Homo sapiens: one gene and its partners. The protein of the gene in region 1 purifies or fractionates together with the protein of each later gene. This does not show direct contact. Each region holds a gene or a part of one and is shown in the gene's direction. Other genes may lie near its edges.

What was found.
Region 2: the proteins of SNIP1 (region 1) and AQR purify together in Homo sapiens (affinity purification with mass spectrometry; 4 studies listed by BioGRID and IntAct, with this or other methods). This does not show direct contact.
Region 3: the proteins of SNIP1 (region 1) and YTHDC1 purify together in Homo sapiens (affinity purification with mass spectrometry; 4 studies listed by BioGRID and IntAct, with this or other methods). This does not show direct contact.
Region 4: the proteins of SNIP1 (region 1) and EIF4A3 purify together in Homo sapiens (affinity purification with mass spectrometry; 4 studies listed by BioGRID and IntAct, with this or other methods). This does not show direct contact.
Region 5: the proteins of SNIP1 (region 1) and CLASRP purify together in Homo sapiens (affinity purification with mass spectrometry; 4 studies listed by BioGRID and IntAct, with this or other methods). This does not show direct contact.
Region 6: the proteins of SNIP1 (region 1) and ISY1 purify together in Homo sapiens (affinity purification with mass spectrometry, with the first as the bait; 4 studies listed by BioGRID). This does not show direct contact.
Region 7: the proteins of SNIP1 (region 1) and ACIN1 purify together in Homo sapiens (affinity purification with mass spectrometry; 5 studies listed by BioGRID and IntAct, with this or other methods). This does not show direct contact.

The regions. Positions count from the first base shown.
Region 1 is NC_000001.11:37,543,678-37,547,971, reverse strand, and holds part of SNIP1 (smad nuclear-interacting protein 1), read left to right. Parts: intron 1-2,513; exon of another isoform or gene 2,514-3,409; intron 3,410-4,294. UniProt on the Homo sapiens protein: Required for pre-mRNA splicing as component of the spliceosome. As a component of the minor spliceosome, involved in the splicing of U12-type introns in pre-mRNAs. Down-regulates NF-kappa-B signaling by competing with RELA for CREBBP/EP300 binding.
Region 2 is NC_000015.10:34,959,419-34,963,712, reverse strand, and holds part of AQR (RNA helicase aquarius), read left to right. Parts: intron 1-2,898; coding exon 2,899-2,939; intron 2,940-4,294.
Region 3 is NC_000004.12:68,315,329-68,319,622, reverse strand, and holds part of YTHDC1 (YTH domain-containing protein 1), read left to right. Parts: intron 1-760; coding exon 761-797; intron 798-869; coding exon of another isoform or gene 870-893; coding exon 894-933; intron 934-1,041; coding exon 1,042-1,104; intron 1,105-3,174; coding exon 3,175-3,309; intron 3,310-4,294. UniProt on the Homo sapiens protein: Regulator of alternative splicing that specifically recognizes and binds N6-methyladenosine (m6A)-containing RNAs.
Region 4 is NC_000017.11:80,140,131-80,144,424, reverse strand, and holds part of EIF4A3 (eukaryotic initiation factor 4A-III), read left to right. Parts: intron 1-180; coding exon 181-253; intron 254-2,576; coding exon 2,577-2,643; intron 2,644-3,043; coding exon 3,044-3,106; intron 3,107-4,284; coding exon 4,285-4,294. UniProt on the Homo sapiens protein: ATP-dependent RNA helicase. Involved in pre-mRNA splicing as component of the spliceosome. Core component of the splicing-dependent multiprotein exon junction complex (EJC) deposited at splice junctions on mRNAs.
Region 5 is NC_000019.10:45,048,666-45,052,959, forward strand, and holds part of CLASRP (CLK4-associating serine/arginine rich protein), read left to right. Parts: intron 1-3,405; coding exon 3,406-3,503; intron 3,504-4,125; coding exon 4,126-4,227; intron 4,228-4,294. UniProt on the Homo sapiens protein: Probably functions as an alternative splicing regulator. May regulate the mRNA splicing of genes such as CLK1. May act by regulating members of the CLK kinase family.
Region 6 is NC_000003.12:129,136,486-129,140,779, reverse strand, and holds part of ISY1 (pre-mRNA-splicing factor ISY1 homolog), read left to right. Parts: intron 1-294; coding exon 295-412; intron 413-3,583; coding exon of another isoform or gene 3,584-3,649; intron 3,650-4,294. Other genes in the region: ISY1-RAB43 protein, read left to right, coding at 295-412. UniProt on the Homo sapiens protein: Component of the spliceosome C complex required for the selective processing of microRNAs during embryonic stem cell differentiation. Required for the biogenesis of all miRNAs from the pri-miR-17-92 primary transcript except miR-92a.
Region 7 is NC_000014.9:23,063,723-23,068,016, reverse strand, and holds part of ACIN1 (apoptotic chromatin condensation inducer in the nucleus), read left to right. Parts: exon of another isoform or gene 1-657; intron 658-2,008; coding exon 2,009-2,051; intron 2,052-3,528; coding exon 3,529-3,662; intron 3,663-3,759; coding exon 3,760-3,912; intron 3,913-4,294.

The DNA.
Region 1 (4,294 bases):
GGTTTCACTATGTTAGCCAGGATGGTCTCCATCTCCTGACCTCGTAATCCACCTGCCTTGGCCTCCCAAAGTGCTGGGATTACAGGCATGAGTCACTGCACCTGGCCCTGAGATAATCTTTTTTATCCACTGGGGATCCTGGAACCAATCTCCTGAGGATACCAAATGATTACTTTATTCTTTTCTCAACCTCTGAACCACCATTTTGTGTTTTTTTTTGGTTGTTGTTGTTGTTTGTTTGGTGAAGTGTTGCTCTGTTGCCCAGGCTAGAGTGCAGTAGTGTGATCTTGGCTCACTGCAATCTTTGCCTCCTGGGTTCAAGCGATTCTCGTGCCTCAACCTCCCCAGTAGCTAGGATTACAGGCACGTGCCACCATGCCCGGCTAATTTTTGTATTTTTAGTAGAGACGGGGTTTCACCATGTTGGCCAGGCTGGTCTCAAACTCCTGACCTCAAGTGATCCACCTGCCTCAGCCTCCCAAAGTGCTGGGATTACAGATATGAACCACCGTACCCAACTGAACCACCATTTTCGAAACAAATGTATTGATTACATGCTCATTGTAATAATACAGAGGTATGTAAAATATAAAATGAGAGTATGGTTTACTTCTCTCGTCCCCAAAATTGCACCACCTCCTCAACCAAAAAACCTCCACCTCACTTGCCAGAGGTAATCACTATGATATAGACTCTCTGTCCATCATCACATGGCCTTCTCCCATGAATCTCTCTATCTCTTCTCTTCCAAGGTCACCAGTCACGTGGGATTAATGACCTATATTACTTCAGTATGACCTTAATTTATTACATCTGCAGTGACCCTCTTTCTAAATAACGGAGAGATAAACATTTGAGACTCACCTGCATATAGGTGTATGTAAAGTATTAGGATTAGATGAAAATTACTAAGGAAATGACTGTAGATAGAAGAACAACCAACAAAGGACTGAATCCAGGGGCGATCCAGTGTGAAGAAATTGCAGTGACATCAGCAAAGAAGACTGGAAAGAAAGAGAAGCAAGAGAATCTGGTAACTTGAAGCCATTAGAAGGAAGTGTGTTGAGGATAGAGTGATTAACTCTGTTAGATGCTGCTGATAGTTAAGTGAAATGAAGACTGAGAATTGGCCACTGGATTTAGCAACATGGAGGTCACTGGTGATCTTGACCAGCAATTTTAGTGGAGTAATAAGGGTGAGACCTGATTGGAGGGGTTCAAGGGAAGACAGAGGAGAGGAATTGGGAACTGAATTTTTAAAAACAATACTTTTTCTTTCTTTCTTTCTCTTTTTTTTTGAAACAGAGTCTCACTCCGTCACCCAGGCTGGAGTGCAGTGGTGCAATCTTGGCTCACTGCAACCTCCACTTCTGGCGTTCAAGTGATTCTTCTGCCCCAGCCTCCCAAGTAGCTGGGACTGTAGGCACGTGCCACCACATCCAGCTAATTTTTGTATTTTTAGTAGAGATGGGATTTCACCATGTTGGCCAGGCTGGTCTTGAATCCCTGACCTCAAGTGATCCACCCACCTCAGCCTCCCAAAGTGCTAGAATTACAGACATAAGCCACCACACCCGGCCGTTATGGCTTATTATAATGACTCTTAATAAGGGATAAAGGACATGATGAGATTAGTCCTGGTGAACTCAAGGCAGATAGCAGTGGCAAGCTTGTAAATGTTTTGGAGTAGGAAGGGTGGTTGTCTGAGGCTCTCTCTTGATGCATGTCTGTGCTAGGCTAGGAAGTCTAGAAAAACTGAGTCCCACTCTAAGCAAGCAGCCCCTCACTTGAGCCCTGTGTATGGCAGGGAGCGGGGGGGGGGGGGGTCTTAGTCCCAGTGCTTCCACTTTTAGGGTATTGCGAATAATGCTGCAATGAACATGGATGCTCAAGTATCTATTTGAGACCCTGCTTTCATTTGTTTGGGATATCCAGAAATGGGATTGCTGGATCATATGGCGATTCTATTTTTAAATTTTTTATGGAACCACTGTACTGTTTTCCGCACTAACTATACCATTTTACATTCCCACCAGCAGTGTACAAGGGTTCTGATTTTTCCACATCTTTGCCAATACTTGTTATTTTCAGTTTTTTGATAGTAGCCATCCTAATGGGTGTGGAGTCACCTAAATTTTTAGTTTTTAATTTTATTTTTATTATTATTTTTAGAGAGGGCGGCGGGTGGGTCTCACTATGTTACCCAGGCTGGTCTCGAACTCCTGGACGCAAGTGATCCACCCGCCTCGGCCTTCCAAAGTGCTGGGATTACAGGTGGGAGCCACTGCGTCCTGCCTGCCTAATCATTTTTATTATTATTATGTATTTTTTAAATTAGGGGCCATGCTAATTTTTGTGTCATTCTAATTTTCTCCCTAATCATTTTGAAAGTCTCTTACTGCTCTCTGCTTTAAAATTTTTAACCTTAATTATCTGTAAACATTTTTGTACCTTACCTAGTCCATAACAAGAAGTTTTTTCTTTGTTTTTTTTTTTTTTTTGGTGGGGGCGGGGGGTACCAAATTTCTTTATTTGAAGGAATGGTACAAATCAGCTTAAGTGGATGTTTTGGTACAACTTATAGAAAAGGTAAAGGAGACCCCAACATGCATGCACTGCCTTGGTGACCAGGGAAGTCACCCCATGGCTATGGGGAAATTAGCCTAAGGCTTAGCTTTCATTATCACTGTCTCCCCGGGGTGTGCTTGTCAGAGAAATATTCTGCCAAGCCAGATTCGGGTGCCCTCATCTTGCGCAAGTTGGTCACATGGTCACCCAATTCTTGATGGATTTCCCCTGCTCATTCAGGTAATGTGTTTCAGTGAAGTCACACAAATGGGGGTAATTTTGTCGGTGGCCAGTTTGTGCAGTTCCAGTAGTGACTGATTCCCAAGTTTTTCCAAATGTAATGCATGCTCCATCGCATTCAGCCTGCTCTCCCAGTCATCATGGTCTGGTTTCTTGAAGTCCCGAAGGAAGAAGATTCAGCCACCTCATTGGTTCTGCAGCTTCATCAGTTTCTTGGCATGTTCCCTCTCCTCATGAGATTGGTGAAGAAAGTATTTGGCAAAGTTCTTCAAAGCCACATCATTGTGGTCAAAGTAGTAAGACATGGACAGGTAGATGTAGGAGGCATAGAGCTCCACGTTGATCTGGCGGTTGATGGCGGTAGTTCTGGCGCACCTGCGAGGGGGACGCGCAGTCGTCATGGTGGTGGCCACGGTGGCTGTGCGGCGGTGGCTGCACGGCGCTGGAGTGGCGGCGGGGGCCTTGGGACAGTCAGAGGGCCCAGTGAAGAGGTAACAGAGGGCTAGCTATGGGCGGCCAGCCGGAGTGGGGTACGAGTGCCTGGTTCCGTCCAAGCACTGTTGAACCAGGAAACTCCAGGGACTTTCCGCAAAGAACGTCTCATTTTTTTCTTTTTGAAACAAGAATACACAACAACATTTTTGTACATGAATGAAGTCCTTGGGGATCTACATCTATAAGACTTGTTTCTTTCTTTCTTTTTTTTTTTTTTTTTTTGAGACAGAGTCTCATTCTGTCCACCCAGGCTGGAGTGCAGTGGCGTGATCTCGGCTCACTGCAACCTCCGCCCTCCGAGTTCAAGTGATTCTCCTGCCTCAGCCTCCCAAGTAGCTGGGATTACAGGCGCCTGCCACCGCGCCCTTCTAATTTTTTGTATTTTTAGTACAGACAGGGTTTCACCATCTTGGCCAGGCTGGTCTTGAACTCCTGACCTTGTGATCCACCCACCTCAGCCTCCCAAAGTGCTAGGATTGCAGGCGTGAGCCACTTCGCCCGGCCTCTTGTTTCTTTTTTTTTTTTGAGACGGAGTCTCTCTTTGTCGTTCAGGCTACAATGCAGTGGCTCCATCTCTGTTCACTGCAACCTCCACTTCTGGGTTCAAGTGATTCTCCTGCCTCAGCCTCCCGAGTAGCTGGATTACAGGCATGCGCTACCACACCTGGCTAATTTTTGCATTTTTAGTAGAGACGGTTTCACCATGTTGACCAGGCTGGTCTTGAACTCCTGACCGACCTCAAGTGACCTGCCCCCCCCCTTGCCCTCCCAAAGTGCTGGGATTACAGGCGTGAGCCACCATGCCCAGCCTATAAGACTTGTTTCTGCTGCCTCTCATGCTCAGTGGCTTGTTTCCATTTCCTTGTGTGTGTCTAGTATTCTTTAGTATTTGAGCTTATGCTTAGGGCTCAAATCTTTTTTTTTTTTTTACCCCCCTTTGGAGATTTTTTTTCTCATTGGAGATTTTGCCTTGCTTATTGAAAGCCCAACA
Region 2 (4,294 bases), on another chromosome or scaffold:
CAGCCTGGATGACAGAGCGAGACTCCATCTCAAAAAAAAGAAAAAAAAAAAGTGTACGTGTATAATTTACTTAACTGTTTTTCTGTTTATAGATTCTTAGGTTATTTTTAATTTATCATTATTATAAATGATCATGTAATAAATATCTTTGTAAATATACAGAAATTTTTGTACAAGTTTTTGATAGTTCATTTAGGATTAAATCTGTTGGGTTATCTTGTTTTTAGAGTGGTGAATGAGGTAAAGGTCTATAATAAAGATGGAAGGAGCAGCAGTTGTATAGTGTAATAACTTAAGTCCAGTAATATTCAATAAGGGAATTGAACTTATTCAATTGAATAAGTCCAACTGAAGCAATTTAGAACAAATAATATGACAAATTCCCAAATATAGGGTTAATTCTCATTGGATTAGGTTCTTAAAGAGAGGTCTAAGGCCAGGTGTGGTGGCTCATGCGTATAATCCTAGTGCTTTGGGAGATCAAAGAGGGAAGATCACCTGAAGCCAGGAGTTTGAGACTAGACTGGACAGTAGTGAGATCTCGCCTTTACAAAAAAATTAAAAAAATTGGCTTGTGCAGTGGCTCACACATGTAGTATCAATTGCTCTGGAAGCTGAAGCGGGAGGATGACTGACTGAGCCCAGGAGCTTGAGGCTGCAGTGAGCTGTAATCAGGCCACTGCACTCCAGCCTGGGCAACAGAATGAGACCCTGTCCCTTAAAGAGAGTGAGGTCTTTAAATGAAATAGATGTTGACACTGCATACCATTCAACAAGTAATGAAGACTCTTAAGCTTTGCCATTATAAATTTAATGGTGATGCTTTAGGCACTGTTGGTAAAACTGAACTTTTTACCCAAAATTTCTTACTTTATTTGAACTTAAATTCTTACGAATATATATTTGTTTTTGCCAGTAATCTTTTATTTATTTTTTTTTTTTGGAGGTGGAGTCTCGCTCTTGTCACCCAGTTTGGAGTGTAATGGCACGATTCTGGCTCACTGCAGCCTCCACCTCCTGGGTTCAAGCGATTCTTCTGCCTCAGCCTCCTGAGTAGCTGGGATTACAGATGCACGCCACCACGCCCTGCTAATTTTTGTATTTTTAGTAGAGACGGGGTTTTACCATGTTGGCCAGGCTGGTCTCAAACTCCTAACTTCAGGTGATCTGCCCACCTTGGCCTCCCAAAGTGGTGGGATTACAGGCTTGAGCCACCACACCCGGCCAACCAGTAATCTTTATTTTATTATTTAATTTGAAATTTGATGAAAACAATAACAGAGCATTTCATCTAGATTGAACAAGACTTGTTTTCCTTATCGCCTCCCTCCCTTTACCACTCACAAATACTTATTTCACAAATGTACTTGGAGCAATTAAAAGATATTATAGGCTAGGTACCATGGCTCATGACTGTAATCCCAGCACTTTGGGAGGCTGAGGCGGTAGGTCACTTGACTTCAGGAGTTCAAGACCAACCTGGGCAACATGGTGAAACCCCATCTCTACCAAAAATACAAAAAATTAGGTGGGTATGGTGGTGTATGCCTGTGGTCCCAGCTATTTGGGAGGCTGCGGCTGGAGGATAGTTGAGACTGGAAGGCAGACGTTGCAATGAGCTGTGATTGCACTGCTACACTCCACCCTAGGTGACAGAGTGAGACCCCATCTCAAAAAAAAAAAAAAAAGACATTATAGTTACCATACAATAATATTATAGCATGTTAAAGCACTTCATAATTTTACAGTAGTATTTTTTTTTACTATTATTAATGCTAGCACTACTACTGCTGCTATTGATAACTGTTAGTGAAGGCTCACTGTATGCCAGTATTTGTACTAATTGTTTATATGCCCTGTCTTATTTTATTTTCAGTAACCCTGTGTGGTAGTTTGTGTTATTAGATCTGTTTTGTGGGTAAGGAAACTGAGGCTTGGAGAGGTCAGGCACTTGCCTAAGAGTTCCAGCCATCAGTAGTGAAGGCAGATGTTTTGAACCAGTCTTCCAATTCGAGAGTCTGAGTTCTTTTTTTCTTTTTTTTTTTTTTTTGAGATGTACAGTTCCAGAGTCAGAATTCTTTTTTTTTTTTTTTTTTTTTTGAGATGGAGTCTCGCTCTATCACCAGGCTGGATGGAGTGCAGTGGCGCGATCTTGACTCACTGCAACCTCCGCCTCCCGGGTTCAAGTGATTCTCCTGCCTCAGCCTCCGAAGTAGTTGGGACTGCAGGTGTGCGCCACCACGCCCAGCTAATATTTGTATTTTTAGTAGAGACAGGGTTTCACCATGTTGGCCAGGATGGTCTTGATCTCTTGACCTCATGATCCACCCTCTTCGGCCTCCCAAAGTGCTCGGATTACAGTCGTGAGCCACCGTGCCTGGCCAGAGTCTGAATTCTTAAGTAGTACACCATTCTGCCCACCCTCACTCAAATGAATGGAAATTCTGAAGCTCTATCATATTCATTTGGATAAAGAGATGTAACAATTAGAATTTGTGTCTGTTATGTCTTCACACTTTTAAATTATTTTCTCTCTGGGTTTTGCAGGCACACAGTTATGACTCTCAAATGGAGTCTCATAACATTTATACACTTTAAGTTTAAAAAAAATCCTGATCTTGTGAATTTTTATTTTCCCTAAAAATCTTTATAAGCACATCATTTTAATGAATCTAGGGCTCTGTTTTATTATTTGTTTTTTCTACTTTGCTTTCTGTTAATTTCATATTTCGAGGAATATAATGGGATTATTTTAAATATCTCATTATTTCAATAGCAGTAATATTTGATGGCTTTCCTAAACCAACTTATTTTATATAATCTCACTCATTAAAAACTGTCAATTTAGGGTTGAAAAAAGTTGTTGAGATATTAAACATTTTTATATTTTTATAACAGGTTATTGAAGATATATATGAAAAAGAGATTGTCAAATCAAGGTAGGAATGAATTTAAATTTTATACAATGTGATTGGGGTGGACCAAGTTGGATCTTGGCTGAACTTCTAAATGTGATCATAACTTGAACCCTTTTTCTGTTTCAAACTGGTCGTCAGGGCAATGGTGACTAGAAAAACTTTAGGTGCTGAAGAGTCATAAATTATTTTTTGCCTTCTAACTTTTGGCTCAGATTAGAGGTATCAAATCCCATAGGGTTTATTTGGATTTAGATGGAATTTGAGAAAAAGTAAACATGAAGATTTTATTACTAGTATTATTTCTGATTCACCTTTTAAAAATATTCTTAAAAAGTTATGAAAGTAAGACATTATTAAATTTACAATAATATAGTATACATATGTAATGTATAAAATGTATAATAATAAACACAGAAGTGATAAAAATTATTTTTGAGCAATATGCTGTAAGGGGTGAGTTTCAATAAATCATCTTTTCTGCCCCCAATCCCTGGTTCATGTATATGGTTCATATACATCTGTTCTATTCCCCACGCCTTCACATGTTTTTTCAAACACAAAAGGGTTTGTACTCTACATGCTATTTTTCATCATGCTTCTTTTAAAAAATTTAACAGCGTGTCTTAGGCATCTTTTTGTATATACACCTGCAGACATGTATGTCCAGTGAGTATTTTAAAAGGATATTTGACTAAATGGGTCAAAGGCCATCTTCAGGATTTTGTTCTTTATTTGGAAAACAGTAGGAAGTAAGAAGAGTTGTAAGCACAGTGGTATTTGAAAAAGAGAATTTGGGTTTGTTTGTTTTTTTTCTTTTTTTGAGACAGGGTTTCACCATGTTGGCCAGGCTAGTCTCAAACTGCTGGCCCCAAGTGATCCACCTGCCTTGGCCTTCCAAAGTGCTGGGATTACAGGCATTAGCCACTGCACCCAGCAAGAATTTGGATTTGGAGGGAGCAAGAGGCAGGGAATTAATTAGGTGAGCATTGTAGTAGTCAGCTTCAAGATGTCATAGATTTGGCTTGTGTGGAAAGTTGGGAGCGGAATTGTCCATTTGAGAAAGATAGAGGTGGAGAGACTTGATGTTTGGATGTGGCAGATGTAGGAAAAGGAAGAATCAAAGATGATCCTAAAATTTTTTGCTTAAGTTGCTGAGTGATTAGTGATGCCATTACTGACTTTTGCCACGTTGTTGGGGGTAGGATTGGGTGTAGATCTTTATTTCACTTTTGGATATATTGAATTCTAGCTACTTAAGAGCTATGAAGATGGAGATATGGAATAGGCAGTTGGATATCCAGGTGTATAGCTCAAAAGAGATTGGGTTGGCTGGGCATGGTGGCTCATGCCTGTAATCCCAGCACCTTGGGAGGCCG
Region 3 (4,294 bases), on another chromosome or scaffold:
TCAAGAAGGGATATCATGTATTTGAAGAGAGTCAGTGATACACTTGTGAAACTTAGGCAGTTAGGAGATTGATGTTAGTGATCATTATAGCACTATTATGTAACAAGTGGCTTGATTAGCCTCATTCTTCCAAAATAGGTTGTCCTGTTGTAGAAAGTGAAAATAGTTTTTCCCCAGTAACATGACTACTCAAATGTTTTTACATTTTAATTTGTTGGGTTCTTATTAAAAGAAGCAGGGGAAAGAATATTTTTCTAACCACCATCGATTTTTCATTTTCAGTGTATACATCTTCATTTTTGCAACTTTTGCAATTTTTTCCCCCTCCCCCTTAAGTTTACATTTTAAAAAGCTTATCTGTGGTTTTCTTGGTAAGACCTACATATACCCAAGGTGGAAAGTAAACATTTGTTTTAAGGAAGTCCTGTCATAGTGTGCTCAAGATAGTTCCTCTGCCCTTACCTTCCCTGTGAAGCAGAAGGAAGAAATTTTCTGATTAGCAAGATTTGGAGTGTGAACATAGAAGATACCTATCTGAAAGCTTCTCTAGCAGTTTACAATTCTATGATATCATTAGTTATTTCCTAGATTATCATGTAATCTGAGAAGAAAATTTGAAAATGGGATAATACAGTAGTAGCATCACTTAAAGTACATATTTCATGGAAAGAATTGAAACGAGTGGTAAGGAAGGTTTAATTATAATGCCATAAAAGAAAAATATAAATTTGATTTACTAAAATGCTTGATGTTTGAACAGGGTATTTAAAGGATCCACGATACCAGGAAGTGGACAGGTAAGTCGGGTTCACTCTTGCCTAGTTTTGAATTACATTCTTGGAACTAGTTTATGAATTACCTGAATTTAGTTTCACAAATCTTATTCCCAACAGACGATTTTCAGGAGTTCGCCGAGATGTGTTTTTAAATGGGGTAAGCATTTCATTTTATCTATTTAATGTGGATAAAATCAGGCTCTGATTTATTTTGCAGTTCTGTGATAATTTTTAATTATATTGACATTATCATCTTTTATTTTAGTCCTACAATGATTATGTGAGGGAATTTCATAACATGGGACCACCACCACCTTGGCAAGGAATGGTTTGTATTATTCTATTTTTATAAGTTACATAACTTAATTTGCAGTTCTAGTATTTCAGGTGCTTACTCGGAATATGATTGTTACAGTTACTCATTAAAGAGACTTAAACTGGCCAGGCGCCGTGGCTCACACCTGCAGTCCCAGCACTTTGGGAGGCTGAGGCGGCTAGATCACCTGAGGTGAAGAGTTCGAGACCAGCCTGGCCAACACGGTGAAACTGAAACCTTGTCTCTACTAAAAATACAAAAAACATTAGCTGGGTGTGGTGGCGTGTGCCTGTACTCCCAGCTACTCGGGGAGGCTGAGGCAGGAGAATTGCTTCAACCCAGGAGGCAGAGGTTACAGTGAGCCGAGATTGCGCCACTGCACTCCAGCCTGGGCAACAGAGGGAGACTCCATCTCAAAAAGACTTAAAATACAGATTTTTGATGATAAATAATTGTATGCTGTCTTTCAAACTAAAGACTAAAAGCTCATTTGTGTTAATAGTACAGGCTTGAGAACTGTAATAGTGTATTATGGTAGTAATTAGTAGTGCAAAGTCCGCTTGGGTTCAGATATATTTCTTTTTCTTCCCAACTCTGTGACTTTGGGTTAATTTCTTAATACAACTCTTAGTTTTCCTCATCTGTAAAATTCCATGGGCATTCACTGATGCTTTGTCTTATCAAATATAATATTTAGTACTTACTCTGTGCAAGGCACTGTGCTTGTTCTGATTATATCATGGTGAATGAAATTGACATCATGACTGTCCTGGTATAGCTTAAAATTTAATGTAGTAGTGTCATTTTCATTGTCAAGATAAATTTACAAAGTACATGTTAAGTTTAGCATAGTGCCTGATCTAATACTCACTAAATTTTCTGTGTAAAATAAGATTAATTAAACCCTGATTATTCCTGCTTTTTAATTATTTCCTTTAAGAAAACTGAATTGTCTTAGAGTATATTTTAAGATATTGAAGATAGCTGAAGCATTAATTTTCAAGAAATAAAAACCTGGAAGTTGAAGTAGCTTCTACTGTTTTCTTACATTTTAATTTATGTCTTTTTTTAAATGCAATATGTTATATGGCCTCTTCATCTGACTTTTGTTTCACTTTTAAGGTATACAGTTTTATACTATTATATGCAGATGATTATGAGACTTTTCCCCTTTAGATTCTAGGAAATTTTAAAAATTTAATAATATATGATCTTGATAGTAACTATGAAAGTAATCTTTAATTTACCCTTTATTCATTTTTTAAATGGCATTTAAAAGTTAATTTGCTCCTGGACTTTTTTTTTGAGAGACAGGGTCTCATTCGGTCTCCCAGGCTGGAATGCAGTGGTGTGATGATAGCTCTGTGCAGCCTTGAACTCCTGGGCACAAGTGGTCCTGCTGCCTCAGCTTCCTGAGTAGGTGGGACTACAGGCACATGCCACTGTGCCTGGCTAATTTTTTTATAGAGACAAGGTCTCACTCTGTTACCCAAGCTGGTCTCCAACTCCTGGCTTAAGGGATTCTTTTCCCTCAGCCTCCCAAAGCACTGGGATATGGGCGTGAGCCACCACACCAGGCCTGTTGATGTTTCTAAGAACAGATACATACAAAGTGGTTAACCAGTTTACCAACTGCAGAACTAGGATGCCTGATGCCGTATGCCTGCTTCACCACTTTAACAGTAGTGTGACTATAAGCAGGTTACTTAACTCCTTGTTGCTTCAGTTTTCCCTTTTGTAAACTGGGAACAATAGTATCTATCTCATAAGGTTGCTGTGAGAATTAAATGAGACTAGTAAAGTGCTTAGAACAATGCCTGGCTCACAGTAAGCACCATGTAAGTGTTTGCTATTTCCATTGTTATTTATATGATAGGAGTAGAAAAGCATAAACATGTTAAATCTTAGAAGATGTGTAATTTTCGACAAAAAGCATATTTTGAAACACCTTAATGCCATCAAAGTAAATGTCTAGTACAGATTCACTTGTTTGGGATTGGTGTTTTGGATGAAGGGTTCTAAGAATCGCTTGTTTACAAGGGTGTTGGTAGATTCTTAATGTAAATGGTTTTCCTTTTTTAGCCCCCTTACCCAGGAATGGAACAACCTCCACACCATCCTTACTATCAGCACCATGCTCCACCTCCTCAAGCTCATCCCCCTTACTCAGGACATCATCCAGTACCACATGAAGCAAGATACAGAGATAAACGAGTAGTAAGTGCACAAGGAGGCAAAGGTGTGAGGGAACTACTTAGAATTCTGTAGGTAACTTAAATATGGGGAGACCAGAGTATGATGATTGACGGACCATTGCATATTCTTACTGCAGACTGTTTTGGAATAATTGTTTGTTTTTATTAAAAATGCCTGATTATGCCCCTTTGGATTATATAGATAGAATATATTTCTTTTACTGATCAAATCACAAACTGCTTAAGGCAAACGCCTACAAATAGAACTCCTTTTAGGTAGTACCTAGGCTATGTTCTTTCCATATTGAGATCTTAATTATGCTATGTAATTAATATTGTTAATAGATATTTCTGAACTTTTTGTGTATTCTTACTCAATTTTTCTAGGATAGATCGTGTATATTAAGTTAGCTGATAAGCTGTAATCTCATTTAGTCATTTGTTTTTATTTCTACCAAATGTTAAAGCTAGTAACTGATAAATTGTTTTACCTCTGGTTATTGTGATGTTAGCAAAGAATAACCAGATGTTATGATATGTAGCAGACATGTCCTTTATTCATTGATTCTGTTAATTATTTGATAAGATTGATGTGAAAGCTTTTTTTGATGGCTTCAAAACAGGACCAGTGAAAAAAAGACTCTAGTTTTAGTTTGAGTTTTCTGGGTTTTTAACTAGTGGGGCTGAGTTTATTAAATGCTTCCCCACCCCCCCCAATAGTACTTTTATTTATAAAGCAGAATTGTCTTCTGGCAAGTGTTGGAAGCATAATTCATATGCATATAAGTTTGATAGCCTTAGAAAGGTAGTTTTGTTGTTAAACTAAGTAGGATATGCAAGTTAGAATTTTTTTCCACTCCCTACTTAGGTTGATGAGTCTGTATGGGGCCAAATAAACATCTTTTTATTTTCCCACTTAAGATGAAGAGTGGGCCTATTTGTGAGAATCAGAGCAGCTTTCTAGCCTATCTTTGAGACATTTTTTTGTGTTGTCAGTAATTTCCTTA
Region 4 (4,294 bases), on another chromosome or scaffold:
TAGAAATCACTCAGCCCAATTCATTGAGCCCCTGGGTTTTGAGAGCTTGCTATGTTGAACACTGGGTTAGGCTGGAGGACAGGTTCAAAAAACAAACCATGTCTGCCCCTGAGGAGCTCACAGTACAGGGTTTCTATGCTGTCATTGTGGTGAGGGCTAATTTTTTGTTTTTATTTGCAGGTTTTGAAAAACCATCAGCAATCCAGCAACGAGCAATCAAGCAGATCATCAAAGGGAGAGATGTCATCGCACAGTAAGTTGTCCTGGGGTGCGGCGCAGGGCTGGATGTAAATTTGGGCAGCGCAGTGCAGTTAGATGCTCTGGGATGACTGTTTCCCTCAGCTTGTACACGCTCAGTTCCAACACTTTCCCTGACTTTAGCCACAGGGTTTAATACTTTTTTAAATTTGTGTTCTCTACTGTGGAAAGCTTTCATTTTCTTTTTGAGATGGAGTCTCGCTCTGTTGCCCAGGCTGGAGTGCAGTGGTGCCATCTCGGCTCACTGCAACCTTTGCCTCTCAGTTTCAAGCTATTCTCCTGCCTCACCCTCCCAAGTAGCTGGGATTACAGGCATGCACCACCATGCCCGACTAATTTTCATATTTTTAGTAGAGACGGGGGTTTCACCATGTTGGTCAGGCTGGTCTCAAACTCCTGACCTCAGGTGATCCACCCTCCTTGGCCTCCTAAAGTGCTGGGATTTCAGGCATGAGTTACTGCGCCCGGCCAAGGCTTTCATTTTCTTAGCCAGCTTTGCTTAGTGGTTTGCTGGCATGTGGAATTGTATATAACACAATTTCGGAAAAACAGACTGTGCTTTTCCTCTGCTCTCACACCACCACAACAGTCATCAGCACAGAAGAAGACTTCTGTGAGCAGAGGTGTGGGGCTTTTCCAGCTGGGTGTCCTCCAGTTCAACTCACACCACCTGCCTGGAGATAGGCCATATCCTGCAGGTTGACGGCTCAGTCCCCATGACTACCCTCTTTTCAGACACCAGTTATAAGTTCGGATCTCTAGAACTTCTGACCAAGCAGCTTCAAGTTGGGTTCCCAGGATCCCCTCTTTAGGTTGGATTAATTTGCTGGAACAGCAGCTCAAAGAACTCAGGGAAACACATTTAGTGGTTTATTATAAAGGGTACTGCAGAGGATACAGATATGGGGGGAGGGGTGCAGCCTCCAAGGGGCGGGTGGTCACCTCCCGGAACCTCCTTGTGTTCCACTGTCTGTGTTCAGCCATCTAGAAGCTCTTCGAACCCAGTCCTCTTGGGTTTTTATGGAAAATTCCATGAGGTCAGCATTCTTTCCCCCATAAGGGAATAGGGCAGGAGCTTTTCTGGGATAATACCATAATGCTTTTTAAAAAAAAATTTGAAATTTAAATTTTTTACATTTTTCGAGACAGGGTCTTACTCTGTCTCCCAGACTGGAGTGCAGTCGTGTGATTACAGCTCATAGCAGCCTCAAGCGATCCTCCCACCTCACCCTCCCAAGTAGCTGGGACTACAGGCACACATCACCATGCCCAATTAATTTTTGTATTTTCTGTAGAGACAGGGTTTTGTTGTGTTGCCCAGGCTGCTCTCAAACTCCTGGCAATCTGTCTGCCTTGGCTTCCCAAAGCCTTGGGATTACAGGCGTGAGCCACTGTGCCCGGCCTAAACATTTTTTTTGTTAAGATATGGGGCCTCACTTCGTCACCCAGGCGGGAATGCAGTGGTGCAGTCATAGCTCACTGCAACCTCTAACTTCGAGGATTAAGGAATCGTCCCGCCTCAACCTCCCAAGTAGCTGGGACTGCCAGAATGTGCCACCGTTCCTGGTTAGTTTTTTGTTTTGTTTAGAAATGGGGTCTCTTGCTGTATTGCCCAGGCTGGTCTCGAATTCCTGGCTTCAATTAATGCTGCCTCTGCGTCCCAGAGTGTTGGGAATACAGGCCTGAGCCACCACGCCGTGACATGAGGGTCTTTATGACTCACAATCTGAAAGGCAGGGAAGATTAGAGCCCTGCTGTGGAGCAGGTGAAAGGAGAGCAGAAGGTCAGAGAGATTGTTTCCTGAGGCCTAACCCATCAATTTAATAAGACTGTAATAAGGGCTATGGGAGCTGTGAGCCAGGAACTATGGATGAAAACTTGTATATAGCCATATCTCCTAGCACCACAAATCCTCTTTTAATAGCTTTATTCCTCGTTTGCCTAATTTCAAAAAAGACTCATTTACACAAAAATTTCTTTGGAAGAGAGAGTTAGTCCAAAATCCTAGAAGGAAAAGAGTTGTATTTAGATAAAGGGGAGTCCTCCTTTTTCTGACACCTATGAAACACCTCTTGAAGTTAGAGAGTCTGTGGCTCCATTGCCCCCGTGCAGAAGCCATGTCTACTCTCTTTCTTCATGGACACTTAACAAGCTGTGACACTGGGCCCGAGTCCTGCCTCCTCGCAGTTAAGATGTTATTAGGTACGGGGGCTTGCTGGAAGAAGGTACCTAAGTGCCTCTGGAGCCCAGGCCTTGGAGTGCAGCTGTGGCGTGGCCTGTCCTCCCTCTAATCCCACTGCTTTTGTTTCCTTGAATAGGTCTCAGTCCGGCACAGGAAAAACAGCCACCTTCAGTATCTCAGTCCTCCAGTGTTTGGATATTCAGGTAATTTGCCATTCTTAAAACAAACTGTTATGTAATTCTAGGAAATACTTGCTTTTTCTTCTGTAACTACAGTGTTCAAAAAGTACAATTTAAAATTTTCTAGTATGTATTGACTCAGCAAATTTTTACACAGAGTCTTAGTTGTACACTAATATATGCACTAATATTCTGTCATGATTTTCTATTTAACTAGAGGAAGCTCTTGTCTGCAGACGAGGATGCTGACACATTAAGTTATTGTTGGATTTGCAATTTAAATGACAATATTTGCTAACCTGTAAGAGATGAGAAGTATGATTAATATGAGATAGTATTTCTCATATAGATCTGAGTGTGAATTACTACAATCCACTTTGATAATACTGCGGATTCTCTATTTTCTGATAAATTATTTCACCAGGTTCGTGAAACTCAAGCTTTGATCTTGGCTCCCACAAGAGAGTTGGCTGTGCAGATCCAGAAGGTGAGATGGCTAAAGATAGCGGTGTCCGATTAACAAGTACTGCTTTTGTGATTTAGTTGTGAAACACCGACTTATTTATTTAATCCAATCCTGTTTTCTGATACCTCAAAATTTTCTTCCTGATTAACATTTTGCCATTAATCATTATATAAATTGCTGGTTTGTATTAAGTCATTTTTGGTGTGGCTTGTGTGCTCTCGGTAGTTTTTTACAGCCTTAGAAATGTAGATTTTTTGCGAAAAATCAATTTTAATAAAAATAAATTAGGTCGAGGTGGGTGGATCACCTGAGGTCAGGAGTTTGAGACCAGCCTGGTCAACATAGTGAAACCCTGTCTCTACTAAAAATACAAAAAATTAGCTGGGCGTGGTGGCAGGCGCCTGTAATCCCAGCTACTTGGGTGGCTGAGCAGGAGAATCACTTGAACCCGGGAGGCAGAGGTTGCAGTGAGCTGAGATTGTGCCGTTGTACTCTAGTCTGGGCAAGAAGAGTGAAACTCTGTCTCAAAAAAAAAATAAATTGTACCCATTTTATACTTAACGTAGTATAAAGATGTATGTTTAAAAAGATGTATATTAAGATGTTAATGCTGGTTTCTTCGGTGGATGGGATTATGAATTTTATATATTCTTTTCTGTTAATGATATAGCTTTTGTAATAAGAAACCAGCAGGCCGGGTGTGGTGGCTCACGCCTGTAATCCCAGCACTTTGAGAGGCTGAGGCAGGCCAATTACGAGGTCAGGAGATAACGACTCTCTGAATACACATATAGGGTGCACACAGCACGGTGTGCTAACACGGTGAAACCCCATCTCTACTAAAAATACAAAAACAAAATTAGCCTGGTGTGGTGGCGGGCGCCTGTAGTCCCAGCTACTCAGGAAGCTGAGGCGGGAGAATGGCGTGAACCCTGGAGGCGGAGCTTGCAGTGAGCTAAGATTGCGCTGCTGCCCCCCAGCATGGGCCACAGAGTGAGACTCCGTCTCAAAAAAAAAAAAAAAAAAGCAAAATTAACTTGTTTTTGTCAGAGAAAAGAGCAGGAGAATTTTGTGGTTTCGAGATAATAATGGCATAAATAATAATCGGTGATCATCTCGGAGGAGAAACAGTCTTTCTTTTTGGAAAACGTGGATGTTTCTCTCTCCCACCCTGGACGTGAACCTGTGCTTTGTTTCAGGGGCTGCTTG
Region 5 (4,294 bases), on another chromosome or scaffold:
TCAGTTTACTCATCTGTAACATGGGCATAAGAATAGTACCAGCTGGGCGTGGTGGCTCATGCCTGTAATCCCAGCACTTTGGGAGGCCGAGGCAGGCGGATCACGAGGTCAGGAGTTAGCGACCAGCCTGGCCAACATGGTGAAGCCCTGTCTCTACTAAAAATACCAAAATTAGCCAAGCGTGGTGGCGGGCACCTGTAATCCCAGCTACTCGGGAAGCTGAGGCAGGAGAATCCCTTGAACTTGGGAGGCAGAGGTTGCAGTGAGCCGAGATCGCGCCATTGCACTCCAGCCTGGGTGACAGAGCGAGACTCTGTTTCAAAAAAAGAAAAAGAATAGTATGTTTCTTCCATGGTTGGGACATTCGAGTGAGACAGTGCACATAAAACAGTGCCTGGTTTTTAGTAGGGTTCATTGACTTTTCCAGAATCTCCCAACAGAACCAGGCTCTGGACTCCTGGTGTTTACTCCCGGCTCAGTGCTTATTCCTTTCTGTGAAGCTGACCCTGCCAGTAGCTTCCCTGTACCTGCCAAATTCTGTCCTGCAAACAGTGTCCCATGAGTCCTGGCTGTGGGAACTGGGCATTTGGCCTGGAGCAGCCTCAGGAGTATGATGGGATCTTGGCCTTGGACTTGGCTGGCTTGTCCCAGGGCAGAGGGAGCTGGGTGCGCTGTGTGGCCCCAGCTGAGGAATCAGCTAAGGAATCGAGGGAGGCAGGCGAGGTGCAGCATGAGTAGCTGGACTCCAGCAGCGCCACCTCGCTGGGCCTGTGGTCTTGAGTGTTCCTTAGACTCAGTTTCTTTAGGTGTGAAATGAGAGTCACAGCAGCCCAGCACCTGGCACATAGTGAGTGCGGGGTTGAAACTAGCCAGGTATTAGCTGTGGTCCTGGTGAGTGACTCAGCTCCTTCAGCCCGGACTGCACCTTCTCATCTGCTGGCTGAGGGCTGAGATGGAGACAGAGTGAGGATGTGCAGGAGCTTGGAAACTTGGAGCTGGTGTTTTTTTCCTGAAGGGGCTCAGAGTCTTCATCTGTTAGTAAGGATTATTCCTGTCTTTCCTTCATTGGGTGTTCTCAAGCGCCTGCTGTGGGCCAGGCCCTGTTCTAGGCTTTAGGGATATAGCAGCCAAAACAGAGCCCTGCCTCCTGGGAGTTACGTTCTAACATGGGAGAAAGGTGATGAATGAATATTAGGTCCAGTGGCAGGTGGTAGCGGGTGCTCAAAAGAAAACAAGTGGAGTTAAGTGAGTGAATTGTGTGGTATATGAATTACTTCTCAATAAAGCCACAGAGTGAAGGAGCTGGGGTAGATAAGTGGGGAGCTATTTAGATAGAGTCACTGAGGACGGCTTTTAGGAGGAGATCTGAAATAAGCGGGGGAGCAGAAGCACAGAGGTCCGAGCAGAAGCACGGGGCATGTCTGGAATGCCCAAGGAATGGCGTGAGGCGAGGGCCTGTGTGCCTGGAGCAGAGTAGGGGAGGGAAGAAATCAGAGAGGGACAGGCCAGCACCTGTGAGGGCTGAGTGGTTGGGAGTGGGGTGGGGGGTGGGGTGCGGCCCAACATGTGTCAGCAAATCTCCTGGAGGCAGAGCCCAGCCTGGACCAGACTGCATCCACACATTGAAAGATGACCAACATCATTAGCCATCAGGGAAATGCCAGTCAGAACCACAAGATACCACTTCACCCACACTAGGCTGGCTGACATGGAAAGGACAGACTATAACAAGTAGTAGGCCAGGCATAGTGGCTCATGCCTGTAATCCCAGCACTTTGGGAGGCCAAGGCAGGCGGATCACCTGAGGTCGAGAGTTCAAGACCAGCCAGACCAACATGGAGAAACCCCATCTCTACTAAAAATACAAAATTAGCTGGGCATGGTGGCGCATGCCTGTAATCCCAGCTACTCAGGAGGCTGAGGCAGGAGAATCGCTTGAACCTGGGAGGTGGAGGTTGCAGTGAGCTGATATCGCACCATTGCACTCCAGTTGAAGATCCTGATTTCTCTATATTCTTGTCACTACTTGTGTTTTGTTTTGTTTTGTTTTGTTTTTTGTTTTTGGAGATGGAGTCTCGCTCTTGTCCCCCAGGCTGGAGTGCACTGGTGGGATCTCTGCTTATTGCAACCTACCTCCACCTCCTGGGTTCAAGCGATTCTCTTGCCTCAGCCTCCCAAATAGCTGGGATTACAGGCGCCTGCCACCATGGCTGGCTAATTTTTTTGTATTTTTAGTAGAGACAGGGTTTCACCATGTTGGCCAGGCTGGTCTCGAACTCCTGACCTCAGGTGATCCGCCTGCCTCGGCCTCCCAAAGTGCTGGGATTACCGGCGTGAGCCACTATGCCCGACCCACTGCTTGTTACAGTCTGTCCTTTCCATGTCAGCCAGCCTAGTGTGGGTGAAGTGGTATCTTGTGGTTCTGATTGGCATTTCCCTGATGGCTAATGATGTTGGTCATCTTCCCATGTGCGGATGCAGTCTGGTCCAGGCTGAAGTGTCCACACCAGTCTCTAAATGAACGGCCCGGAGGATGGGAGGTGAAGAGTTAAGGGGGCTGATATTTTAGAGAGCGAGGTCTTCGTACTGGCTATGCAGAAGATTGAGCCACCACCTCGAGAGGAACCAATAGCTTATTTCTTCAATTTCTTTTTTTTTCTCTTTTTGAGATGGAGTCTTGCTCTGTTGCCCAGGCTAGAGTGCGGTGACACAATCTCAGCTCACTGCAACTTCTGCCTCCCAGGTTCAAGCGATTCTCCTGCCTCAGGCTCCCAAGTAGCTGGGATTACAGGCATGTGTCACCACGCCCAGCTAATTTTTTGTATTTTTAGTAGAGCCTGGGTTTCGCCATGTTGGTCTGGAACTCCTGACTTCAGATGACCTGCCTGCCTTGGCCTCCCAAAGTGTTGAGATTACAGGCGTGAGCCACCATGCCTAGCCAATTCCCTTATTTCTGAAGGTTAGCAGGTTGGTTCACCTCTGAGGTATGGCCCACTTGACCTTAGAAGTGAGCTTGCTGCAGGCCGGGCGCGGTGACTCATGCCTGTAATCCCAGCACTTTGGGAGGCTGAGGCGGGTGGATCACGAGGTAAGGAGATCGAGACCATCCTGGCTAACACAGTGAAACCCTGTCTCTACTAAAAACACAAAAAATTAGTCGGGCATGGTGGCGGGCGCCTGTAGTCCCAGCTACTCAGAAAGCTGAGGCAGGAGAATGGCGTGAACCTGGGAAGCAGAGCTTGCAGTGAGCCGAGACAGCACCATTGCACTCCAGCCTGGGCGACAGAGTGAGGCTCCATCTCAAAAAAAAAAAGAAGTGAGCTTGCTGCTAAGCTCGGTTGTGTGTGAGGGGGTGGGGTTTGGAGCTCTGTTGGGTGGTGACCTCAGTCCTGTTTACCCCTGCAGAAGAAGGACCCAGCCCAGTTCCTGCAGGTACATGGCCGAGCTTGCAAGGTGCACCTGGATTCTGCAGTCGCCCTGGCCGCTGAGAGCCCTGTTAATATGTAAGACTGATATGGAAGGCAGGGGAGTGTCTGAAGTCTGGGAGTCAAAACGGACCTGGGGTGGTGTAGAGTGTGGAGCAGAGACTGAAGTATGGACAGACCTTTGGGGACTCAGAGGCAGGGAAGGTGTGACCCGCATATGAAGGTGATAGTCACAGGGTGTAAGAACAATGAGCAGGGGTTGGGGTGGAGGCCCCAGAGTAGCAGTCATGGTTGGAGGACTTAGAAATGGGTGGAGCCAGGGCCAGAGGCCCAGAGGAAGCAGAGAGTAGGTTGCCAGACCCGAGCTGGCTCAGGGTGCCTGGGGCCCGCCCCTCAAATACCCTCTAGGACCTGGTTCAAGTTCCCCACTATTGCTTGGTTGTGAGAAATGGGGCCCTGGTGTCCCCAGGGGCAGTCAGATGACTGGCCTGTTTCAGGTCCCAGGAGCCTGAATGTGGATTCAGGGAGGCTTGCAACAGAAGGGACTGAGAGCTGGGGGTTGAGGTGAGGGTCATGGCATGGGGACCAAAGCAGGCTGAGGGCCAGGCTTCTAAGCCTCAGCTGGCAGGGAGCAGGTGCTTTGTGTCCTGGGCAGTATGGACCCTGAGGTTCTTGCTTTCTTGCTCCCCTCCCACTTCAGGATGCCCTGGCAGGGGGACACCAACAACATGATTGACCGATTCGATGTCCGTGCCCACCTGGACCACATCCCCGACTACACCCCCCCTCTGCTCACCACCATGTAAGCCACCTCCCAGGGGGTTGCCAGGCACAGCGTCATACCCAGGAGCCCCTGTTCTTTTCCCAGC
Region 6 (4,294 bases), on another chromosome or scaffold:
GACCAACATGGTGAAACCCCGTCTCTACTAAAAATACAAAAATTAGCCAGGCGTGGTGGCACGCACCTGTAATCCCAGCTACTCAGGAGGCTGAGGCAGGAGAATCACTTGAACCCAGGAGGTGGAGGTTGCAGTGAGATTGTGCTACTGCACTCCAGCCTGGGCAACAGAGCGAGACTCCACCTCAAATAAATAAATGGGCAACAGAGCGAGACTCCGCCTCAAATAAATAAATAAATAATAACTAACTAACTAACTAACAGATCCATTTTCTCTTTTTTTCTTCCCAATAAGAAAGTTGGCCCTAAAATGCTGGATCATGAAGGAAAAGAAGTCCCAGGAAACCGAGGTTACAAGTACTTTGGAGCAGCAAAAGATTTGCCTGGTGTTAGAGAGCTGTTTGAAAAAGAACGTAAGTAAGTTTGTGACAGTTTTAGCCTTTCATTGGTAATAATCATAAGAGTAGATATGCTATATGCTAACTGCTCTTACTTTTTTTTCTTAGTTGCATAACAGCCTTATAGTGTAGGAATTATTGTTCCCAGATTTTAACTGAGAATTCTTAAGAACTGGGATAGAATCATAGGCCCATGCCATACAATTGGGGCTGGAAAGTGTGCCCAGGATTGGCTGGTGCAGGATTCTGCCTTTGGCAGGTGCTAATCTGTCAGTCTGGACAAGGAGTTTCCCTATTTGAAGTTTCCCAGAACGATTGGGGCAGGCTCTGAAGTTCATTGAATCAGGTCATGTTTCAGTTACTTATTAGTTGAACAAATGATAACCAAAGAACAAATACAATCTTGGGCCAAACCCTAAATGTAAAAATGGAGAAAAGTGAGGCCCAGCACTGTGGCTCATGCCTGTAATCCCAGCACTTTGGGAGGCTGAGGTGGGCGGATCACCTGAGGTAGGGAGTTAGAGACCAGCTTGACCAACATGGAGAAACCCCGTCTCCACTAAACATACAAAATTAGCTGGGCATGGTGGTGCATGCCTGTACTCCCAGCTACTCAGGAGACTGAGACAGGAGAATTGCTTGAATCTGAGGGGTGGAGGTTGCGGTGAGCCGAGATCGTGCCATTGCACTCCAGCCTGGACAGCAAGAGCGAAACTCCATCTCAAAAAAAAAAAAGGAGAAAAGTGGAGCTACTTTTGTGTGAATCCAAATAGGGCACACCCACCTTTCCTCCTTCTTTCAGCCAAACCTCCTGAATATAATTTGAAACTGTTAGTCTGGAGTTTTAGTCGGTTTTGATTTTGTGTTTTAGAAAGGTAGTCAACACTTCATAGGAAAAAGTATGAGAGGCAGAGAAGAATGATGCCAGTATTTTCACCATTATTAGCATTTTGTTATATCTCCTTCTAGTTGGCTTTTCTATTTTAAAAAAAATATAGTTCTATTTTTATTAAATGCTGCTTATTTTAAAATTCATTATTCCACAGCTAGTTTTGCATAGGCCACTACCATCCCTTAAAAATAATTCAGAGTTTAAATATTGTGCCATTAATTATGAAGGAATATATTTTTTACTACAGAGGAGTTATAGCCAGGCGCAGTGGCTCATGCCTGTAATCCCAGCACTTTGGGAGCCTGAGGCGGGAGAATCACAAGGTCAGGAGTTCGAGACCAGCCTGGCCAACATGGTGAAACCCTGTCTCTACTAAAAATACAAAAAAAATTAGCTGGGCATATGGCAGGCACCTGTAATCCCAGCTACTCAGGAGGCTGAGGCAGGAGAATCACTTGAACCTGGGAGGCAGAGGTTGCAGTGAGCCGAGATCGTCCCACTGCGCTCCAGCCTGGGCAGCAGAGCAGGACTCCATCTCAAACAAAAAAAAGTTATAAAATACAGAAAATCAGAAAAAAACCACTCACATTTTCACACCTCATATGTGATGATTGTTAATACATTAGGGCATTGTTCCCTCCAGTTTCTTTCTTTCTTTCTTTCTTTTTTTTTTTTTGAGATGGAGTCTTGCTCTGTTGCGCAGGCTGGAGTGTAGTTGTGCAATCTCGGCTCACTGCAACCTCTGCCTCCCGGGTTCAAGTAATTCTCCTGCCTCAGCCTCCCAAGTAGCTGGGACTACAGGCGCATGCCACCATGCCCAGCTAATTTGTATCTTTTTTTTGTTTTTGAGATGGAGTCTCGCTCTGTCACCAAGGCTGGAGTACAGTGGCCCAATCTTGGCTCACTGCAAGCTCCACCTCCTGGGTTCACACCATTCTCCTGCCTCAGCCTCCTGAGTAGCTGGGACTACAGGCATCTGCCACCATGCCCAGCTAATTTTATTTTTTTTTTGTATTTTTAGTAGAGACGGGGTTTCACCGTGTTAGCCAGGATGGTCTCGATCTCCTGACCTCGTGATCCACCTGCCTCAGCTTCCCAAAGTGCTGGGATTACAGGCGTGAGCCACCGTGACCAGTACTAATTTGTATTTTTAGTAGAGACAGGGTTTCACTGTGTTGGTGCCAGGGTGGTCTCGAGCTCTTTTTTTTTTGAGATGGAGTTTTGCTCTGTTGCCCAGGCTGGAGTACAGTGACGCAATCTCGGCTTACTGCTGCAAGCTCTGCCTCCCAGGTTCACGCCATTCTCCTGCCTCAGGCTCCTGAGTAGCTGGTACTATAGGCGCCCGCCACCATGCCCGGCAAAGTTTTTGTGTTTTTTTAGTAGAGACGGGGTTTCACCATGTTAACCAGGATGGTCTCAATCTCCTGACCTTGTGATCCGCCCGCCTTGGTCTCCCAAAATGCTGGGATTACAGGCGTGAGCCACTGTGCCCAGTACTAATTTGTATTTTTAGTGGAGACAGGGTTTCCCTATGTTGGCCAGGGTGGTCTCGAGTTTTTTTTTTTTTTTTTTTTTTGACATGGAGTCTTGCTGTGTTGCCCAGGCTGGAGTGCAGTGATGCGATCTCGGCACACTGCTGTAAGCTCTGCCTCCCGGGTTTACGCCATTCTCCTGCCTCAGCCTCCCGAGTAGCTGGGACTATAGGTGACCGCCACCACGCCCGGCAAAGTTTTTGTATTTTTTTAGTAGAGACGGGGTTTCACCGTGTTAGCCAGGATGGTCTCTATCTCCTGACCTCGTGATCCGCCCGCCTCGGCCTCCCAAAGTGCTGGGATAACATCCCACTGCTCCCGGCCGGTCTCAAACGCTTGATGTCATGATCTGCCCACCTCGGCCTCCCAAAGCGCTAGGATTACAGGAGTGAGCCACCTCGCCTGGCTGTTCCTTCCAGTTTCTAAAGGGTTGTGTTGGGGTGGCTCCTATATTGTGATTATGCTCTATATGTTAGGTTTTTTGCATTTACATTTTTCTAAATATATTTTTGCTTATTCCAGTGATAGAGTTTTGGGTTTTTAAATTTATTTTTCCTTTTTTGTCATCTATTGAAAAGATTTTTGTTTTAGAAAGAAAATGCATAAGTGAATTTTACTGGTTATAATTCAAATAGCACAGATAGAGTTAAAGTCCTCTTACCTCTACACTCATCCCAGTGCCCCTCCTAGAGGTAACTGATAACCATTATTATCTGTTTGGTATGTTCCTTTCCGGCCTTAAAAATTTTTTTATTTTTTTAGGCCAGGTGCGGTGGCTCATGCCTGTAATCCCAGCACTTTGGGAGGCTGAGGCGGGCGGATCACAAGGTCAGGAGATCAAGACCATCCTGGCTAACATGGTGAAACCCCGTCTCTGCTAAAAAAAAATACAAAAAATTAGCTGGGCATGGTGGCGGGCACCTGTAATCCCAGCTACTTGGGAGGCTGAGGCAGGAGAATGGCGTGAACCCAGGAGGCGGAGCTTGCAGTGAACTGAGATCGCGCCATTGCACTCCAGCCTGGGCAACAGAGTGAGGCTCTGTCTAAAAAAATAAAATTAAAAAATAAAAAATAAAAAAAAAAAGAAGAAGAAAATACAAAATTAGCTGGGCATGGTGGCAGGTGCCTATAATCCCAGCTACTCGGGAGACTAAGGCAGGAGAATGGCGTGAACCCAGGAGGCGGAGCTTGCAGTGAGCTGAGATCACGCCATTGCACTCCAGCCTGGGTGACAGAGCGAGGCTCTGTCTTTAAAAAAAAAAAAAAAGAAGAAGAAGAAAATACAAAATTAGCCGGGCGTGGTGGTGCGTGCCTGTAATTCCAGCTACTCAGGAGGCTGAGGCAGGAGAATTGCTTGAACCCAGGAGGCGGAGGTTGTGGTGAGCTGAGATTGCGCCATTGCACTCCAGCCTGAGCAACAAGAGCGAGACTCCGTCCCACAAAAAAAAGAAAAAAACATGCTGGGATTACAGG
Region 7 (4,294 bases), on another chromosome or scaffold:
CCCTGGAGGCAGGGACTCATTTCATCCACCTGACTGGAACCACTGTCTCAGCTGGAGTCCCTGAGGAGATGCCAGCCACAACTCTCCGAAGAGAAGTATTCTGACCTTGCTGCTGAATGTCTGCCAGGTCCTGGGGTATTCACCTACCCCCAGGCTACCTTCATCAGAGGCTCCATGATCCCACTCGGTGAGAGGACCCCCTCCCCAGTTACAGGCAGAGGAGAAAGGGACTCTGGAGTCATCACCTGGATTCCAAGTATTGGGTGGTGTTATTGCTGCAGCTTGCCACTGGTGGACATAGGGTCCTGCCTGCCTCTCACGATAAAAGGCAAGGATCATTCCTGCTACTCACAGGCCATCTCATCAGGGACTGCAAGATGATGTCCCTTCAGGGCCAGGACTGATGTCTCTGCCCCTTTCCCCCCTCTATCCCTCGCTGAGCCTGGCCACCGCCAGTGAACTGTCTTGACATCATGGAAACTGGGCAGCGTCCCCCCACACGTTTCCCTCCCGCCCCCCCTGCGCCCCTGGGAGGACTCTGGCAGTGCCGTGCTGACTACCACGCCGTGCGCCCACCTTTTTTGCCAACCCAACCCCCCACCAATTGCACAGCGCCTAGCAGGGAGGGCTCATTCTGATTGGACCGGCGGTTGACTAGATACAGTACACAGTGAGGTGCGATTGGCTGAACTGAAGATCCCAGGTGTGAGATGGTACCTGGAACATTTGTCATATTCCTAGTTTATTTTCTTCTTTATTTTCTTCTTCTTTTTTTAATATTTTATTTTATTTTTTTCTATATCTTTATTTTTTCTGATTTCTTTTATTTATTTATTTGGTTCATGTTTTTCCTGTTTTAATTAAGACCTTTTTTTTTGTTTTGTTTTTCTCACTAACTTACCCATCGAGAGCGGCCCAGCTAGGGGTCAGGCTGGCCCTTAACAGAGACCAAGGAGACTTGGTTAGACGACACAAACGGGGCTGCGGGTGGGGGTGGATGGGAAAGGGATTTCATCACGAGGTTTCTGCCCTACCCTTTAGAAGAGTGGTAGAGTGGTCTTAGTTTTTCCAGAAATAAGCACCTACACTTGAAAATACTCTATTCCCTTTTTCTCTCTCACTTTTCTCCCCCGCCCCCCATAGTCTTTCGTCATTCACCCACTGAGTGTTTGGGGTAGAGACTTGTCCCAAAGATGTCTTCTGGTCTTTGGCAGAGCCCCTAAGGCTTGAGCCCTGGTTGGAGAGGAAACAGTAAGACTCTGCTGGAGCTCCCTGCGGTGGCTGGAAAGTCTAAGGATCTCCTTGGGGACAATCTGCCCTTCATAAAAACCTTCCTTTATCAAAGACACCTTTGAGTTCTTTTTGCTAGCACTTGGCTCAAGAGCCTCATCTCCAGTGGGTCTGGTGCTGCCCTTTTCCACAGTGTGGTGGGGGTCTGGGCAGTCTTGACATGACAGTCTGCTGTCCAAGCATCTCAAAGCCATTGTCAGTGGGCATCAGTCTGGCCATTGAAGAAAGGAGGGTTACCTTGTTGAAGTTGCCATCCAAAGTTGGTTTTCCTTGTTTCCTCGAGTTAGCAAGGAAGGACCTGGGAGGACTAGATGACCCAGTTTGGGGCACAGTTTGTTTGGCTTGGTGTCCTCTCGACTCAGACGGTGAAAGAGGGGGTATGACCAACATCTTTAGGGGGCTGAGAGGCTACTGAACTCCTCTTCCAGCTTATTTCTGGTTAAGCTAATACACAGGTGTGATACGGAGTAGATGACTTTTCCCTGCTCTGATGTTTAGTTTTATTTTTTTCTCTAACTTGCATTGATTCTGCTTCGTTTTTGCCGTTTGCCGCTTCTGTTTTGGTCTCTGTCTGTCTCTGTGTCTCTCTCTGTCTCTCTCTCTCACTCTATCTGTGTCTTTGGAGGCTAAGCTAAGACTGCCCCATCTAACCTCCTTCCCCCCTCTCTGTGGGGTGTCTCTCTTTCTCTTTTTTTTCCCCTTTTTCTTCTTCATACAGAGCTCGCTGCCCAAATCATTCAAGAGGAAGATCTCCGTTGTCTGTAAGTCCAGCCCCAAATCCCTGATAAAAGTCAGGAATACCATAAAAACCAGCATTCATTGAGAACCAGAATTTCATTCTCAATGGCATTCTTGGGTCACTCCCTCCTGCCCCACCCCTTGTGCCTAGCAAATCTGAATCCTTTCCTATGTAGGGTTTCATTTTGGAATTCAAAACTTGAGACAATCCCCATCATATTGCTCCAGTCACATTTTAATGAGATACAGTGTGAGGTGTCTGAGACCATGTCCCATTTAGCCTTAGAGGCATTTATTCTTTCAGATACCTGAATACTCAACAAGGAATGAGTTTCAGGGACTCCTATGTGATGCTTAGCAGTTTATGAATTATTCTGGGTATTTTGTTGTTGTTTTTTTGAGACGGAGTCTCCCTCTGTAGTACCCTAGGCTGGAGTGCAGTGGTGCGATTTTGGCTCACTGCAACCTCCGCCTCCGGGTCCCAGTTCAAGCAATCCTCCTCCGCCTCCTGAGTAGCTGGGATTAGAGGCATGCGCCACCATGCCCAGCTAATTTTTGTATTTTTAGTAGAGATGGGGTTTCCCCATGTTGGACAGGCTGGTCTTGAACTCCTGACCTTGTGATCCGCCTGCCTTGGCCTCCCAAAGTGTTGGGATTACAGGCGTGAGCCATCGTGCCTGACCTTGTTTATGCGTTATTCTAAGAGAGCACCCAAGGAAATGAAAGTGCCCCACACCTCAAACAGTAACAATTTTAACATTTTCCCCAATGAGGAACTCTAGATTACAAAAGTATAATAGATGTTTATAACTTAAATATCAATCTGTAGTGTGAAAATTAAAGGAAGACCAGATCCCATCATGATCTTAGTTCTGCCTAGATGTTAGTATCACATAGTGTTCTTGTTTCTTCTGCATTTACATGTCCTTCTCAGTTTTTCTTCCACACTACTTGATATTACTGTCTACCATTAAAAGTTTAAACGGCTCATCAAACTAGCTACCCCTCCCTTACTGCTTTTAGATCAGTGTTCAGTCTGAAGCCATGGTTTCCCCAGTTCCCAAATATGATTTCTTTTCTTTTTTTTTTTTTGAGACGGAGTCTTGCTCTGTCACCAGGCTGGAGTGCAGTCAGTGGCACCATCTTGGCTCACTGCAGCCTCCGCCTCCCGGGTTCAAGCAATTCTGCTTCAGCACCCTGAGTAGCTGGGATTACAGGCATGCACCACAACGCCTGGCTAATTTTTGTATTTTTAGTAGAGATGGGGTTTCACCATGTTGGTCAGGCTAGTCTCAAACTCCTGACCTCGTGATCCACCCGCCTTGGCCTCCCAAAGTGCTGGGATTACAGGTGTGAGCCACCACACTCAGCCTCCAAATATGATTTCTTTAAGTTAACCTTTTACCAAAACTCCAGCCAGAGGTAACCTGTAGGTATTACGGTTTGAACTAGCAGAGGTCCTGAGACCATCTAACTGTTGGGTCTATTTCTTGGGGACAGCAGCTACCAAGGGGGTGCCAGCTGGAAACAGTGACACAGAGGGGGGCCAGCCTGGTCGGAAACGACGCTGGGGAGCCAGCACAGCCACCACACAGAAGAAACCTTCCATCAGTATCACCACTGAATCACTAAAGGTGAGGTGGGAGGAGCCAGGGAAGGGAGGATGAGACCTGTTAAGGTGGGAGTAGACATGGGCCCAGTGTAACGGGGTGGGGGGTATCTGTGTCCCAGAGCCTCATCCCCGACATCAAACCCCTGGCGGGGCAGGAGGCTGTTGTGGATCTTCATGCTGATGACTCTCGCATCTCTGAGGATGAGACAGAGCGTAATGGCGATGATGGGACCCATGACAAGGGGCTGAAAATATGCCGGACAGTCACTCAGGTAAGGCTTCTGCACCCCAGTGTCAGGGGAAAGGTGGGAGCAGTAGATGCAGAGCAGCTAGCTGAGGAGCTGAGATAAAGTCTTTGGAGGGAACTTCCCTGTCTGTGCAGAGGGTTGGGTTGACTGACACTTTCAGGGGTCAGACTACCAAATCCAGCTGGCTACCTGTTACAAATAAAGTTTGATTGGAACACAACCACACGAGTTCATTCACTTTTGTCTGTGGCTGTTTGTTCACTACAACATCACCAGAGTTGAGTAGTTGCAACAAACTATGTGGCCTGCAAAACCTGAAGTACTGCTTTGCTCTACAGAAAAAATTTACTAACTCCTGTCTTAGTTTTCCTCAAGGCAAAGTTGAGGCACTAACAATCCCAGGATC